Homo sapiens: one gene and its partner. The protein of the gene in region 1 interacts with the protein of each later gene in a pairwise test. Each region holds a gene or a part of one and is shown on either strand. Other genes may lie near its edges.

Region 1 (7,019 bases):
ATCTAGTGATATAACCTCAGGGCCCTGGGGGGTCCACAGCACAGGCAAGGCAGAAACAAGGACCTTGGGCTCTCTGTGGCCTCTGAACTGTAGAAGAATGGACTTTCCCTCTTTGGCTCTGGTGTTTGCCTCCTGCTTCTGTGAAGGACCGGGAGAAAAAGCCTCCTAAGTCCCAAATTATCCGACTTGCTGACAAGTGCAGAGGGCAGGGTAGACAGGACTATTGCTTTTCTTAGTTTACCTCTAGAGTACCCTCTAGAAAGTGTCTTTGAATGCTCAATCCTTGCAAAGGTTTCCATCCTGGTCATTTAAAGAATAGGAGGACAAGGGTTAGGGATGCCGGTTCTGCTGCCATTTGATTTGACTGGGTCTGAACTGGGCTGGGGCCCAGTGACTCAGTGGGAGGGTGGATAGTTTTGAGGGAGCTGTGAGTCATGGGGTTGAGCTCCATCACAAGAGTTGGGCTCATTTCCCCCATTCTGGGCAGAAGCTCTCCTATCCCACTTCCCTGTATGCTCTGTCTCCTTGAACATGGGCCTGTGAGTAGAAAGAGTGCTGGCAGGCTGATCTCAGAAAGGGAGTTCAGAGGCACAAAGAATAATGCTGGTCCCTGAGATTAAAATGTATCCCTATCTTAGGAACCCGTGGGGCTCCTCTAAAGAAGGCAAAAGAACATCAATTTAAGAGTAACAGAGGGAAAAGTACCACTTCTTAACATGGAAGGAGATAGGGTCCCACCTCAGGCCTTTTTCTTCTCTGGCATGGAGGAAGCTTCCTGGGCTTCACTAGTTCTCCAGCTCTGAAGCTTTGGTTTGGAAGGTGGGGAAAGACAAATGGGAGTGAGGTATTTGGGGTCTGGGGTCTGGTATAGACAGCAGGCAGACTTTGAGGGTTGTCAAACCGTATCTTTAAAGCCCTCGGGCTTCCTATTAACCGTCCTGGAAGGAGGAAGGGCGGGGGAGTAGGGCGGAGGGGTAAGATGTGGAAGGCCTACGCCTTTGAAAGGGTTAAATGGCAGGGCAGGGTGTTGCTTTGGACTCCGGCAGCTGTCGGGTTAAGGAGAAGGGCGGAGCGACCTTGGGTAAGCCTACCCCCTTATGGACCAATAGGCGTGTGCCTCTTGGAGGGGGCGTGCCTCGCACTTGAGGTCGCGGGGAGGCTGGCTTCCTATGGACCAATGAGCATGGTCGCTTTCCAGGGAGGGCGTAGCCTGAGGGGGGCGTGGCGGCCGTGGCCGCCGCGGCGCGGGTGGTGGGGCACTGGGCGGGGCGGGCGGCCCCATCAGCTGGTAGGAAATGGCCTGTGAGTCAGAGGGGCAGTGGAGTCGGCGGCGCGGAGCCGGGGCGGCCCCGGGGAGGGACCGTCGCAGGGAGGGGCGCGGCAGCGGCTGGGGGGCTGCGGGCGCCAGGGCCCGCTAGTGTTGCACACGAAGCTGAACAGCGAAGAGCCTAGCAGAGCAGGGCTCAGCCTGAGCCACCCTTTGTCTGGGTTGGGGGCCCGTGGCAGGGAGGACCGGGGAACCAAGGGGAGGGACCGGGACGGGACGGGACGGAAGGGCCCGGAGCAGCGGCCACCTCCGCGGAGCCAATTTGGGAGCGGGGTGAGTGTGCTAGAGGGAAAGAGCAAATCTCCGAAGCTCCAGTATAGTATGGGGCCTGTCCCAGGCTGTGGGGAGGAGAGGAGTGAGAAGGGACCTGGGAGGCTGGGCAGGGGGTAAGGGATCGTCCAGAAGAAGGAGTCCAGGAGTCAGGTGAGTCTGCCTGGCTTAGTTTAGAGAGTCTGCTAAGGTCTGCTCTCTCCCCTCTGAAGATAGAGGGCTCTAGGCTGGGGGCCGAGGGGTTGGTAAGAGAGAAGAAGTCGACCTTCCTACCCACAGTGGTGGTCCGTGGGAACAGCCCCCCTAGCTTGTGTGGATGTATGTAGGGACAAAATAGAGAGCAGCTGGCAGCAGTTCTCTTTGCATAGGATGAGGGTGGAAAGCACATGGATAGGAATTCATCCTGTCACTCTCCTTGATCATGGTAGAAATGGAAATCTTTAATACTGAAGGGAAGGGGAGAATGAGCCTTGAAGCTGATACCTATACCAATACCCACCTCACCCACCTCCCAGGCCTCAAAAGTGTCTAAAGGTACAGACGTATTCTGGGACTTGTTGTTTTTGCTGGCCTTGCTCCCTCAGCATGTTGGGAGCTGTAGTCCTTGCCAGCCACAGCCTGGCACAGCTGTTTGATGCCAGCTGCTGCCCACCCCCTGAACGAAGAGTGAGGCTTGGCCTACTCTGCCCTGCCCCCCTCCCCTGCAGTCCTGCCCCATGAGTCAGCTTGAAGCCATGGTCTAGAGCCAGACTGGCTGGGTGGCAGGGGAGTGAATATAGAGCGTCTTGTTGACAGGGTGGGAACTGAGAGGGCTCTGGGGTTAATAAGCAGATGCCAGGTATGCTGGGGTCAAGTAGGGCATCATGTCATCCCCTGGCTTCCCCAGGGCAAGGGGTCAAGAGGGCAACTGGGATGACCTGGAAGTGGTGGTGCTAGGGAAAAGGCCCCTCCTGAATCTGTATGGCTTGGGTGGAGGAAAGAAGGGTAGAAATTAGTGCAGGTTGTACCTTCTGACAAGGTTGGTTGCAGGTAGGATAGTGCAGGTTGCGATTGGTGTTCTGCCCTTTCCAGCCATCCCGCCCACCACAGGGAACCAGGATTTTCTTAGGGATCCCAATTCTTAGGAGAATTTGGTGAAATGGGATAGTGGGGTACAATGATGGGAACTTGGTGTAGGAGAGCTTTTCAGTCCCTGGGTACAAATCTCTCCTTTCTGCCTGCTCCCCACCCCCACCTCTGTTCCTGATTTTCCCTTGTACAATTAATCTCTCTGCTTCTCTCATCTGGGAAATTTTTCTCTCCACTCTCAGGACTGCTGCTCAGATGTCTGGGACTTGCATTCTACTTTTTTTGAGCCCTGCTGTGTGCTTACCCCTGTACTTGGGGTTGGATGGAGGGGTGGGACACAGATCTGTCCTCAGGAACTCTATGGTCGGTCTAGAAGATGCCTTACCCACAGGAGTGAGCAGAACTGTTAGTGAGCTTACAGGAAGTAGTAACACTGCCATAGGTGAGGTCTCAGAGAAGGGAGAGATGCTTATGGTCTGGGGTGGACAGAGCAGACTTTCTGGAGGAGATGGCATTTGACCTATCCAAGGAGGAAAAGTCTTGGGTAGGCATTCAAAGGGCACTTCTTGAAGGGGAAAGAGCACCGTGAATGTCAGACAGCAAAAGAGAAGGCTGACCCTGGGGGCAGCTGGCTTTCAACTTGACATTCCCCTCACCCTAGTATGGGCTGGAATAGTTAGTGAAGACCATCTTATGCACCCGTGGTTTGGGGTTTTGGTGTTGGGTGTGTGAGCACTGGGGGAGGGGCGTGGAGAGGTACTCCCTAGTTGCTTCCAGCTGACTGACTGCTGCGGCCTTATCTCTAGTTTGCAGGGCCTTGCGGGAGGGCCCTGGAAAGTGCCTTCTGGCAGTGACCCCTTCCCCTTCCCCTTCTTGTTTTTGGTCGGATTTGTTGCCTCTTGTTAAAGAGACAGGCTGCTGGAGGCAATTTGGAGTTCAGGGCTGAAAGGCCAGCTCTGAGCTGACTTGAAATTTGTACCTCTGAGGACCGCTGATGGGGTATAACTGTGTGGGAGACCTCTGCCCTTAGTGCCCTAGGATGGCACTTGTCCCTTTGGAGATAGACATATAAGAAGGAGTTGTGCAATTTGGTGGCTTTGAGTAAGAAAGCTGAATTCTTCCCCTGGCCGCCTCTCAGCTGACACGGTCTCTTGGATCTTGGGGGTCTCTCATCCCTTCCTCCATGTAGGGCAGGAGTCCTCAAATGGTGGCCCTGACAAGTAGTTATTCTACCTCAACTCACTTGTCACATCCTTATTATACTGAGCCAAGACCTGCCTCTTTGACTCCTTAGGTAGCCCAACTCTGCCATCTGTGCCCTGGACCCCAAGCCTACCCTTTCTGTTCCTGAAGAGCCTCTCACATGGGAGAAGGATGTCCTGGAGTGTACTATTAGCCTATAATTGGTGACAGGCCTTACCGCTGGCTCCAGTGATCCTGGCTTACGTCTGTTCTTCTCTCCTCAGGGTCCTGCTGAGCTCAGGAGCTGCACGGAATGGTGGCAGTCACCTTGCCAGTGCAGCAGGCATGGATCAGACTGCAAGCTAGGGGCACGAGGCATCAGTTGGGAAGAGGGGACGCACAGCTAGGCTTGAGGCCTCTTCATCGGGGTAAGTACCAGGGAGAAGAGGGGGAAGTGTGTCCAGTAAGAAGCCTGAGCTAAACCTGTCACCCTCTCAGGAGTTCTGAGAGTGGTCTCTATATTCCATTAGTCCATCCAGGGATTTGTACACATTCATCCTTGGGAACCCATCAAAGTCACCCCTTTAGGCAAGGAGAGGGTCTGAAACTCAGCTGGAAGGAAGAAGACTCATTGATTCCCCTGACCACCTTTTCTTCTCTTCTCTTACACAGATGTCCCCAGGCCCCCCAGCCCAGGCCCAGCATAAAGGCCGTGTTGGGGGGCCCCCCTGACCCAAGGGGGGCTTCATGCGCCACGTGCAGGCGGAGCCGTCTCCATCCTCAGAGCCGGAGGCTGGCCCTTCACAGCCTCCAGTCAGGCAGGGGGCCCTCCAGGGTGGCCTGCTCATGGGCTACAGCCCAGCAGGGGGGGCGACATCCCCCGGGGTCTACCAGGTATCCATCTTTTCCCCTCCGGCTGGTACCTCTGAGCCTCATAGGGCCCTGAAACGACAAGCCCCATCCACTGAGGGTCCCCGGGAGCTGAAGAGAGGCCCTGGGCTGGGGGCCAGAGAGGGACTACCCCCTGAAGAACCATCTACTGTGGGGCTCTTAGGCCCAGAGGGACCGGGGCTGGGACTAGGTGTGGCCAGCCAGCATTTCTCCCACCGTGGCCTCTGTGTTGTGGAACAGAGAAGTAGTGTCACCTCATCTTGGACTTCGGGGGCCTGGAGTCCCCCCTGCCCCCCATCAAATGCTTCCTGCAATACTTTGCACACCAGAGACTGGGCCTCCCCAGATCCAGGGGGACAGGGGTCCCTGGGGGAGTCCCCAGGGCCAGCCCCTCCAGGCCAGCTGCACACACTTGACACTGATTTGCACAGTCTTGCACAAATAGGGGGTAAGAGCCCAGTGGCTGGGGTGGGCAATGGGGGTAGCCTCTGGCCTAGGGAGTCCCCTGGCACTGCCAATGGGCACAGTCCCGAGCACACACCCCCTGGCCCTGGACCCCCAGGCCCCTGCCCCACCAAGCGAAGGCTGCTTCCTGCTGGAGAAGCCCCAGATGTCAGCTCTGAGGAAGAGGGGCCAGCCCCTCGGAGGCGCCGGGGATCCCTGGGCCACCCTACTGCTGCCAACAGTTCTGATGCCAAAGCCACACCCTTCTGGAGCCACCTGCTGCCTGGGCCCAAAGAGCCTGTTTTGGTAAGCCAATAAAGGACCTCATTTACTCTTTTTTTACTTTTTTTTTTTTTTTTTTTTTTTTGAGATGGGATCTCACTCCATCACTGCTGGAGTGCAGTGGCACAATCTCAGCTGACTGCAACCTCCTCCTCCCAGGCTCAAGGGATCCTCCAACCTCAGCCTCCCAAGTATCTGGGACCACAGGCACATGACATTGCACCCAGCTAATTTTTGGTATTTTTGGTAGAAATGGGGTTTCGCCATGTTGCCCAAGCTGGTCTCGAACTCCTGAGCTCAAATCATCGACCCACCTTGGCCTTCTAAAGTGTTGTGATTACAGGCGCTCAAGCCACTGCGCCTGTCCTTCATGTACTCTTAAGTGGATATTTGTGTGGGTAAAGGTGGAGGCCTGGGGGGCAGGGTGTTCCTTTGAGAGTTTGTGATGAGCTTCTGCCCCAAAACATACATGGCCTTCACCCTGTGTCTTTTCCCAATCATTTCTCTCCGTAGGACCCAACAGACTGCGGTCCCATGGGGCGGAGGCTGAAAGGAGCCCGTCGCCTGAAGCTGTAAGTGACCAGCTTTTTCCTCTACCCTGTCCCTGAGAATGGGGGCAGAAGTCTGTACTCTTTCCAGCATCCGAGTAGGGGACCCCAGGGCAGAAGCCCTACATAGTGGCAGAGGGTGGAGTCCAAGGGCATAAGCAGGAATCCCAGAATACCTCAAGCCAACCCCCTGTGTTTCCCTTCCTCTACCAGGAGCCCCCTTCGAAGCCTCCGGAAGGGGCCAGGCCTGCTGAGCCCCCCCAGTGCCTCCCCTGTTCCTACCCCTGCTGTCAGCCGTACCCTGCTGGGCAACTTTGAGGTAGCTCCCGTTGGGGTTTGTGATTGCCGGGGTCCTGGGAGAGGTGGGATGGTGGAATGTGGCTTGGATGGATAAGGAAAAGAATTGGCATCTCTCTCTTCATGTGTTTTCCCTACCCTAATCCCAGGAATCATTGCTGCGAGGACGTTTTGCACCATCTGGCCACATTGAGGGCTTCACAGCAGAAATTGGAGCTAGTGGGTCATACTGCCCCCAGCACGTCACGCTGCCTGTCACTGTCACATTCTTTGATGTTTCTGAGCAAAATGCCCCGGCTCCCTTCCTGGTATGCCTTGACTCCAACCCCAAAGTCAGCTCATCAAGAGGATGAGGATTTGGGGGCGGGGCCAGGGGGCAAGAGGTATTTCTTACTTATTCCTCACCTAGAAGTGAGTCAGGGCCAGGTGAGGAGAACTCTACTGTAGGGCAGGGGCAGGTTCAGGGTGAGAGCTTGTGGAGAGGGACATGTGTTTAGGGCCCAGGGTTTTCCTAGTCCCCACCTTGACTGATGGCTCCCTGGCCTTCCAGGGCATCGTGGATCTGAACCCCTTGGGGAGGAAGGGTTACAGCGTGCCCAAGGTGGGCACCGTCCAAGTGGTGAGTTTGCCCTGAGGGAGTGGGAGTGGGGAGAGAGGAAAGCAGCCCTCAGGCCCTACCAACCTTGACTGTCCTGTCCCTAGACCTTATT
Region 2 (7,046 bases), on another chromosome or scaffold:
CAGCAAAATAGCTATAAACAGAAGGACGATAAAAACCTCTGACATCTGTGCTCTGTGAATCACTCGCAAAACACTTTCACACCTGGTTCTCCTTTTTTGTCTTCCCCTTTTAATTAATTAATTTATTTATTTATCTATTTTTTTGAGACGGAGTCTCACTCTGTTGCCCAGGCTGGAGTGCAGTGGTGCAATCTCGGCTCACTCCAACCTCTGCCTCCCGCATTCAAGCAATTTTCATGCCTCAGCCTCCCAAGTAGCTTGGACTATAGGCGTGTGCCACCACGCCCGGCTAATTTTTTGTATTTTTAGTAGAGACGGGGTTTCGCCATGTTGGCCAGGTTGGTCTTGAACTCCTGACCTCAGGTTATCCACCTGCCTCGGCCTCCCAAAGTGCTGGGATTACAGGCGAGAGCCACTGCGCCCAGCCTGTCTTCCTCTTTTTAACCACTGTCTTGGGAGGATCATCATCCTCACTCCACAGACACCAAGGCTCAGAGACAAAGGGTGACATGTCCAAGGTCCTCCAGCTAAAAGAGTGGAGCTGGGATTTGAGCTGGAGCCACCCTGGGCTAGGGGAGCTCCAATCTCTGTTACAGCTGTTGGGTTTGAAGGATGCTGTTTTTCCAAAACCAAAATTCAGGACCTAGACACGGCCTGGTGATTCCAGCCCTGTGGAGGAAACTCAGGCCACTGCCACTGTCCCTGTTGAGGCCCTCCTCATCTCTTCCCTGAGACACCCAACCCTCTTGACCCCCTCTGCTCATGCAAGTCCTCTCCTCCTGGATCCAGAGAAAGTTTCATCTCATACTAAAGCCGCAGCGATTTCTGCAAGCACCAGATTTGCAGCCAGGTATTGCGCTGGACATCGTGGCCAATTCAGAGAAGGGCAAAACAGAGCACCTGGCCCCGAACCAGGGGCTTCCTGTCCAGCTGGAAAAACAAGAAGTGCTTACTTGGGTGATAGAATAAGGTACTTGAACTTTCTTTTCCCTCAAATAGATTCCTGGTCCCAACCAGACCCCCTCAATTGACTGGGACATGTTCCTCTGCTGTGTGGGCTGATTCCAGTGACCCCCTCTGCTAAAAAAGCTAAGCAGGTTGTGACATTTTCACACCAACAGTATTACAAAGCAATCTGATTTCCTTTTTCTTGTCTGTCACAATGACACCTGTTGATGGATTCTAAGTATACTATGGAAGATGGGGGTGCCAGAGATTAGAAAGTAAGTTGAGAAAAAGGCCAGGTGCAGTGGCTCACAACTGTAATCCTAGCACTTTGGGAGGCTGAGGTGGGTGGATCATCTGAGGTCAGGAGTTCGAGACCAGCTTGATCAACATGGTGAAACCCCGTCTCTACTAAAAATACAAAAAATTAGCCGGGCATGGTGGTGGGCGCCTGTAATCCCAGCTACTCAGGAGGCTGGGGCAGGAGAATCGCCTGAACCCGGGAGGCAGAAGTTGCAGTGAGCTGAGATCGCACCACTTAACTCCAGCCTGGGCGACAAGAGGGAGACTCCATCTCAAAGAAAAAAAAAAAGAAAGAAAGAAAAGAAAAGAAAAGAAAAAAATTGCAAAAATTAGCCAGGCGTAGCTATGAGCTGTAAGCCCCAAATTTAAAGGGGATAAAAACCTTGCCAGACAAAATACAAGCATGTAATAAATTAATCACTGCAGAATTGGCTCAGGAAAACCATGAAGAGATTTCACAAGGCAAATACACAGCAAATTGCTGAACAAATGATTCAAATAGCAACTGCTCAGGAGCTCAGCTCAGAAAAGGGAGCAAGATATATGAGCTGAGATTGTCTGCTAAGGCTGCCGGGAAGAGGTGAATTAGAGCGGAGCCTGCAGGCAAGGGATGAACAAGGCAGAAAACAGGGGCATCTTCCCCAACCTGAGAAGAAGGGCCAGAGTGGGTAGGGGGTTTTGAGGTCAGAGTGACAGCTGTGCCATGCAAATTGTTTACAAAGCACTCACACCTGTTTCTCCTTTTAATCTTTTGTTTCTGAGATGGAGTCTGGCTCTGTCACCCAGGCTGGCATGCAATGGCGCGATCTCGGTTCACTGCAATCTCCGCCACCCGGGTCCAAGCGATTCTCCTGCCTCAGTCTCCTGAGTAGCTGGGATTACAGGTGCATACCACCATGCCTGGCTAATTTTTGCATTTTTAGTAGAGACGGGGTTTCACCATGTTGGCCAGGCTGGTCCAGATATATGATCTAGATCTTATACCAACTCCTGATCTCATGATCCACACTCCTCAGCCTCCCAAAGTGCTGGGATTACAGGCGTGAGCCACCGCGCCCAGCCTCTCCTTTTAATCTTGACTTTCACAAATACCTGGTGGCAGGTGTCATTTCCCCATTCTACACGTACCTGAGGCTCAGAGTGAGACAGCGACTCACCCAAGATCTCCCAGCTACAAAATGGCAGAGCCTGGGCCTGAGCTAGCATGGTCATGGGCTGGAAGAGCCACAATCCATGTTAAGGCACCTGGGTTTGGAGACTGCTGCCTTTTTTTTTTTTGAAACGGAGTCTCTCTCTGTCGCCCAGGCTGGAGTGCAATGGCCTGATCTCGGCTCACTACAACCTCCCTCTCCTATTTTCAAGCGATTCTCCTGCCTCAGGCTCCCAAATAGCTGGAATTACAGGTGTGCGCCACCGCACCTGGCCTTAGACTGCTGCTTTTTGAAACCAAAATTCTGGCCTGGAAACAGAGCTTGGTTTTCCCAGCCCCAGCCCTGCCGCTATGATACCAGAGGAAGAGGCTTCCCAGGGCCTCCGTTTCCTTGCCTGCACAATGTGGCTGGCAAGATTTGGTCTTCTCTCACAGGGTGGTGGTGAGCTTTCAAATCCTGTGAAAGTGATCTCACAGGAGAGCAGTGGACACGTGGGAAGGCTGTTATTGTCACGGCATTCTGCACATCTGTCCGGACTCAATTAGCCACCTAAGGAGAGAGTAGGGCGGGGCTTCCACCGGCCGTGGGATATGTGGATAATCATCCTTCTGTATCTTTCTTCCATGGCTCCTGGGGCAGCTGGGGAAGCAAGCTGGATGGGCCTGGCCCCATGCTGCCGGATGAGGTGGATGCCTGGCTGTGGCTCTGGGAGAGCCAACCTCCCCCAGGGAACCCACTTTACACAATAGCAGTGGCAGCAGAGGCTGGCGAGGAGACAAGATTCGGACTCTGGGGAGCACTGATAGCATTTCCCGAGCCTCAGGTACATGCGGACCGTGACCCTCCCTGGGACCCCAGGGGGGCTGCTCCTCAGGACTAAGGAAGGAGGAGGGGGTGTGAGAAACCTTTCACCATATACCATAGAAAGCATTTACCTCAATGGCCTTGGTTTACATATGGGGAAACTGAGGCACATAAAGGGAAGGGAGCATGTCCAGTCTGTCCTTAATAGCAAGACCCACTGAATACACCTCTCCTGGCTCTCTGTTTAGTGTTTGGACGTTCAAAGATCCCTAGACTAGGCGGCGGGAGTTTCAGGGCCACGATCCAGATCTTACACCAACTGTGTGTGGCCCCGCACAAAATCACTCCCCGCTCTTTGGCACTTAAGTTGGCGAAACTGGGATGGGCTGGGACCTCAAAGGGCCATTCTAGTAGGGGAGTCACAGGCCCAGGTGGTGAAGGGGTGAAAGGGCATGATGTCTTGGGGTTTATAGTCCACTGAGCCTCGCCGGAGGTAACCCCGGCTCAGGGATGCTTTCGTTGCCATGGCAACCGCCGGGCCGGCGCGGGCCCCTGAGTGCAGCTGAGGAAGCTGGGACAAACCCTGCCCTTCCCAAGATGGCGGCGGCGGCAGGGCAAAGGGCGGGGTTAGACGCTGTCAGCCTGTCCAGACCGTTCCTCTGTTTTCGCTTGTTCCTACTAACAGCGAGCTTCCGCCAATACTTGTTCTCGTTCTTGGTTCCGAGCGTCCCGGGAGCCGGGAAGGGAAGGATTGTCTGCAGGGATTGGAGCAAATATCCAGTGGGGGGAAAGCCGGGACTTCCGCGTCTTGCCGGAAGTGACGTGACAATCGCGGCCACCGCCAGGTGGAACGGCAGGTGGGTTCAGGTACCAGCCTGGCCGGGACCCGGCTGTGGGACCAACGCTTCCGGTGAGCGACAGAGGCAGCTCCCCAGGGCCTGGAGACCCGTGGGGCGGACTCTGGGATCTGAGCCTATCGCCCTGGCCTGGAGCCCCCCTTTGTACCTAGTAAGAATCACCTACCCAGCCCCCCACCCGGAGACTGTCCCATCCCACTCCAGAGGGAAGAGGAGGGCACTGCTGTCCCGTATGAGGTGGTGGAGGGAGGGGTGGCGTTGGCATTTAGGCACTTGGGTTCCTTAAATCCTATGCTCCTTTCTCTCCCGGATCCAGTTCCCCATTCCCCTACCGAGCTGGGCAGTTAGCCAGCCCACTCCAACTCTCGGAACCATGTTTGCAGACTTGGATTATGACATCGAAGAGGATAAACTGTGAGTATTTTATTCCCCCAAGTTCCAGCAGTATAGGAGCCCCAAGTTCCTCATTTCCCTGGACTTCCCAGTCCCACAGACCCTTGCTTCTCAGCGGTGGATCAGTTGTTGTACTGAAGCAGCAATGGACCCTGCTCTCCCAGGAGCTCACTATTTGTAGGGGGCTGTGGACAGTTAAAGGGATAATCACAGCTCAGTGCCATAAGGGCACTATTAGCATGACTTGGTGACAAGAAGAGCAAAGCAGATGGAGCAGTGCTTCTGCTGGGATGGTCAAGGAAAGCTTCATGGAGGACGTAGCAATTGAACCAGGTTTTGAAGGTTGAATAGGAATATTGTAGACACCCTTCCTTCCCAACATAGGTTGTTAGTAGGACAGATTTTCCCATTAGAATATATCCTCTTTCAGATCAAGGAGTGGGTGCAATGCCTTTCTCTATGCTCAGCACTTAGTAAGGGACTTGACGTCAGTAGGTTGTTAGCGAATGTTTTTTGAATGAATAAGTGAATCAGCGTGAGTACTTATCATAAAACACCAGTCAATGCTAATTTATAGTGGAAACCGAGAGGTAATCGAGCAGTTGAGAGGTGGGAGGTGGACAGTTTAATAGAGGAAGACTCCCTGGAGTAGGTGGCCATCATACTACATAGATGCCTGATAAGGTGACAAGGACAGAACCTGGCTCAAATCTCAGAGATCGAATAAATGAAAGGGAAGGGGGACCTATTTTTATGGAGTGCCTGCTATGGACTGGGTTGCTGTTAGTGCCCTCCATGCATGGTTAGAAGAACTCTGATAAGGGTGCTCATCCACATTTTATGGATGAGGAAATTGAGATGCACAGAGGCTGACTTACCCAAGTCCCATAGCTGGCCAGGCACGGTGGCTCACGCCTGTAATCCCAGCACTTTGGGAGGCTGAGGCAGGCGGATCAACTGAGGTCAGGAGTTCAAGACCAGCCTGGCCAACATGGTGAAACCCCGTCTCTACTAAAAATACAAAAAAATCAGCCAGGCGTGGTGGCAGGCACCTGTAGTCCCAGCTACTTGGGCGACTGAGGCAGGAGAATCACTTGAACCCGGGAGGCGGAGGTTGCAGTGAGCCGAGATTGCGCCATTGCACTCTAGCCTGGGCAACAAGAGTAAGACTCCATCTCAAAAAAAAACCAAGTTCCACAGCTGATAAATGGCAGAGCTGGGGTTTGATCCCACATCTGCTTAACTCCAAGAGCTGTGCATGTTCCAGCACAAAATGTTGTTTTGTCCAAGGGAGGGAGAGAAAAAGCTGGGCAGCCAGTGGAGCCCCTCAGGAGTTTTAGAGGGCCCACCCGCTCCAGTCATCCTTCTGCCAGGAGAGTCAGCCTAGCTTGCTTTCCTTTCTAGCGGAATCCCGACTGTGCCTGGGAAGGTGACCCTGCAGAAGGATGCTCAGAACCTGATCGGGATCAGCATTGGAGGAGGGGCCCAGTACTGTCCCTGCCTCTATATCGTCCAGGTATTGGGCGCTTTGGAGGGGGGCACAAGGTACATCCCTACTTGGGCATGACAAAGGCAGGTTCATTTCTCCACACTGCATAGCTGACTCCTTCTCATTCTTGAGGTCTGACCCTCTCAGAGGGGCTTTCTGACCACCTGCGCTGCGTTGCTCTGCCCTGTCTTCTCCCCTGTGTCGCTCTGTTTTTTTCCTTCTCGGCACTTATTACTTGTTATTTGCCCTCTGTCTAGTAGAGTAGACTCTTTGCACTGAGGGCAGTGTCCTGGTTTGCTTTTTCACTGCAGTAAGCACCAGGTACAGTGCCTGGCACATAGTGGACATGCAATAGAAATTGACTATTGAATCAACAAAACCATCAGCCTTGCGTACTAGCCAAAATGAAGTGTCATAGGAACACGATGAAATAATGGCCTGAGTTCAAATGCAAGCTTCTTTCCTACTTACTAGCAAGTTACTTAACCTCTTTGGGCCTCAGTTTCATCACCTAGAAAGCGGGGATTTAAAACATGTAGACACAATCATCTCTGGGTTCTTGTGAGAAGTCAACAAAACGACCTAACACACTAGAAGTTAAGAAACGTGCATTGGCCAGGCATAGTGGCTCACACCTGTAATCCCAGCACTTTGGGAGGCCGAGGTGGGTGGATCACGAGGTCAGGAGTTCGAGACCAGCCTGGCCAACATGGTGAAACCCCGTCTCTACTAAAATACAAAAATTAGCTGGGCGTGGTGGTGCACGCCTGTACTTCCAGCTACTTGGGAGGCTGAAGTAGGAGAATCGCTTGAACCTGGAAAGTAGAGGTTGCAGTGAGCTGAGATCACGCCACTGCATTCCGTGCATTCCAGCCTGGGTGACCGAGTGAGACCCTGTTTCAAAAAAAAGAAAGAACCATGCATTAAGCAGTAGCTGCTGCTATTTTCCAGGTAGCTGTACATTTTCCCAGATGCTCTGCCAGTGGTGAGGAACACTCTTGTGTCTCTTGCAGAGGAAGCTGCACTGGTGATATTCTGTCCACTGTAACTCAGGAGTGGTGACAGGCCTGCTGTGGGGCCTCCTTCACTGTGTGGCTCATCCAA

What was found. The genes of interacting proteins can lie anywhere in the genome.
Region 2: the proteins of ATOSB (region 1) and PICK1 interact in binary tests that used the Homo sapiens proteins (3 or more experiments, as listed by UniProt).

The regions. Positions count from the first base shown.
Region 1 is NC_000009.12:35,105,850-35,112,868, reverse strand, and holds part of ATOSB (atos homolog protein B), read left to right. Parts: intron 1-476; exon of another isoform or gene 477-539; intron 540-1,212; exon of another isoform or gene 1,213-1,302; intron 1,303-1,416; exon of another isoform or gene 1,417-1,600; intron 1,601-1,653; exon of another isoform or gene 1,654-3,209; intron 3,210-3,238; exon of another isoform or gene 3,239-3,664; intron 3,665-4,131; 5' UTR 4,132-4,275; intron 4,276-4,519; 5' UTR 4,520-4,594; coding exon 4,595-5,488; intron 5,489-5,977; coding exon 5,978-6,036; intron 6,037-6,225; coding exon 6,226-6,331; intron 6,332-6,458; coding exon 6,459-6,617; intron 6,618-6,859; coding exon 6,860-6,928; intron 6,929-7,011; coding exon 7,012-7,019. UniProt on the Homo sapiens protein: Transcription regulator that may syncronize transcriptional and translational programs.
Region 2 is NC_000022.11:38,053,377-38,060,422, forward strand, and holds the start of PICK1 (PRKCA-binding protein), read left to right. Parts: upstream 1-4,027; 5' UTR 4,028-4,211; intron 4,212-4,376; 5' UTR 4,377-4,433; coding exon 4,434-4,474; intron 4,475-5,857; coding exon 5,858-5,969; intron 5,970-7,046. UniProt on the Homo sapiens protein: Probable adapter protein that bind to and organize the subcellular localization of a variety of membrane proteins containing some PDZ recognition sequence.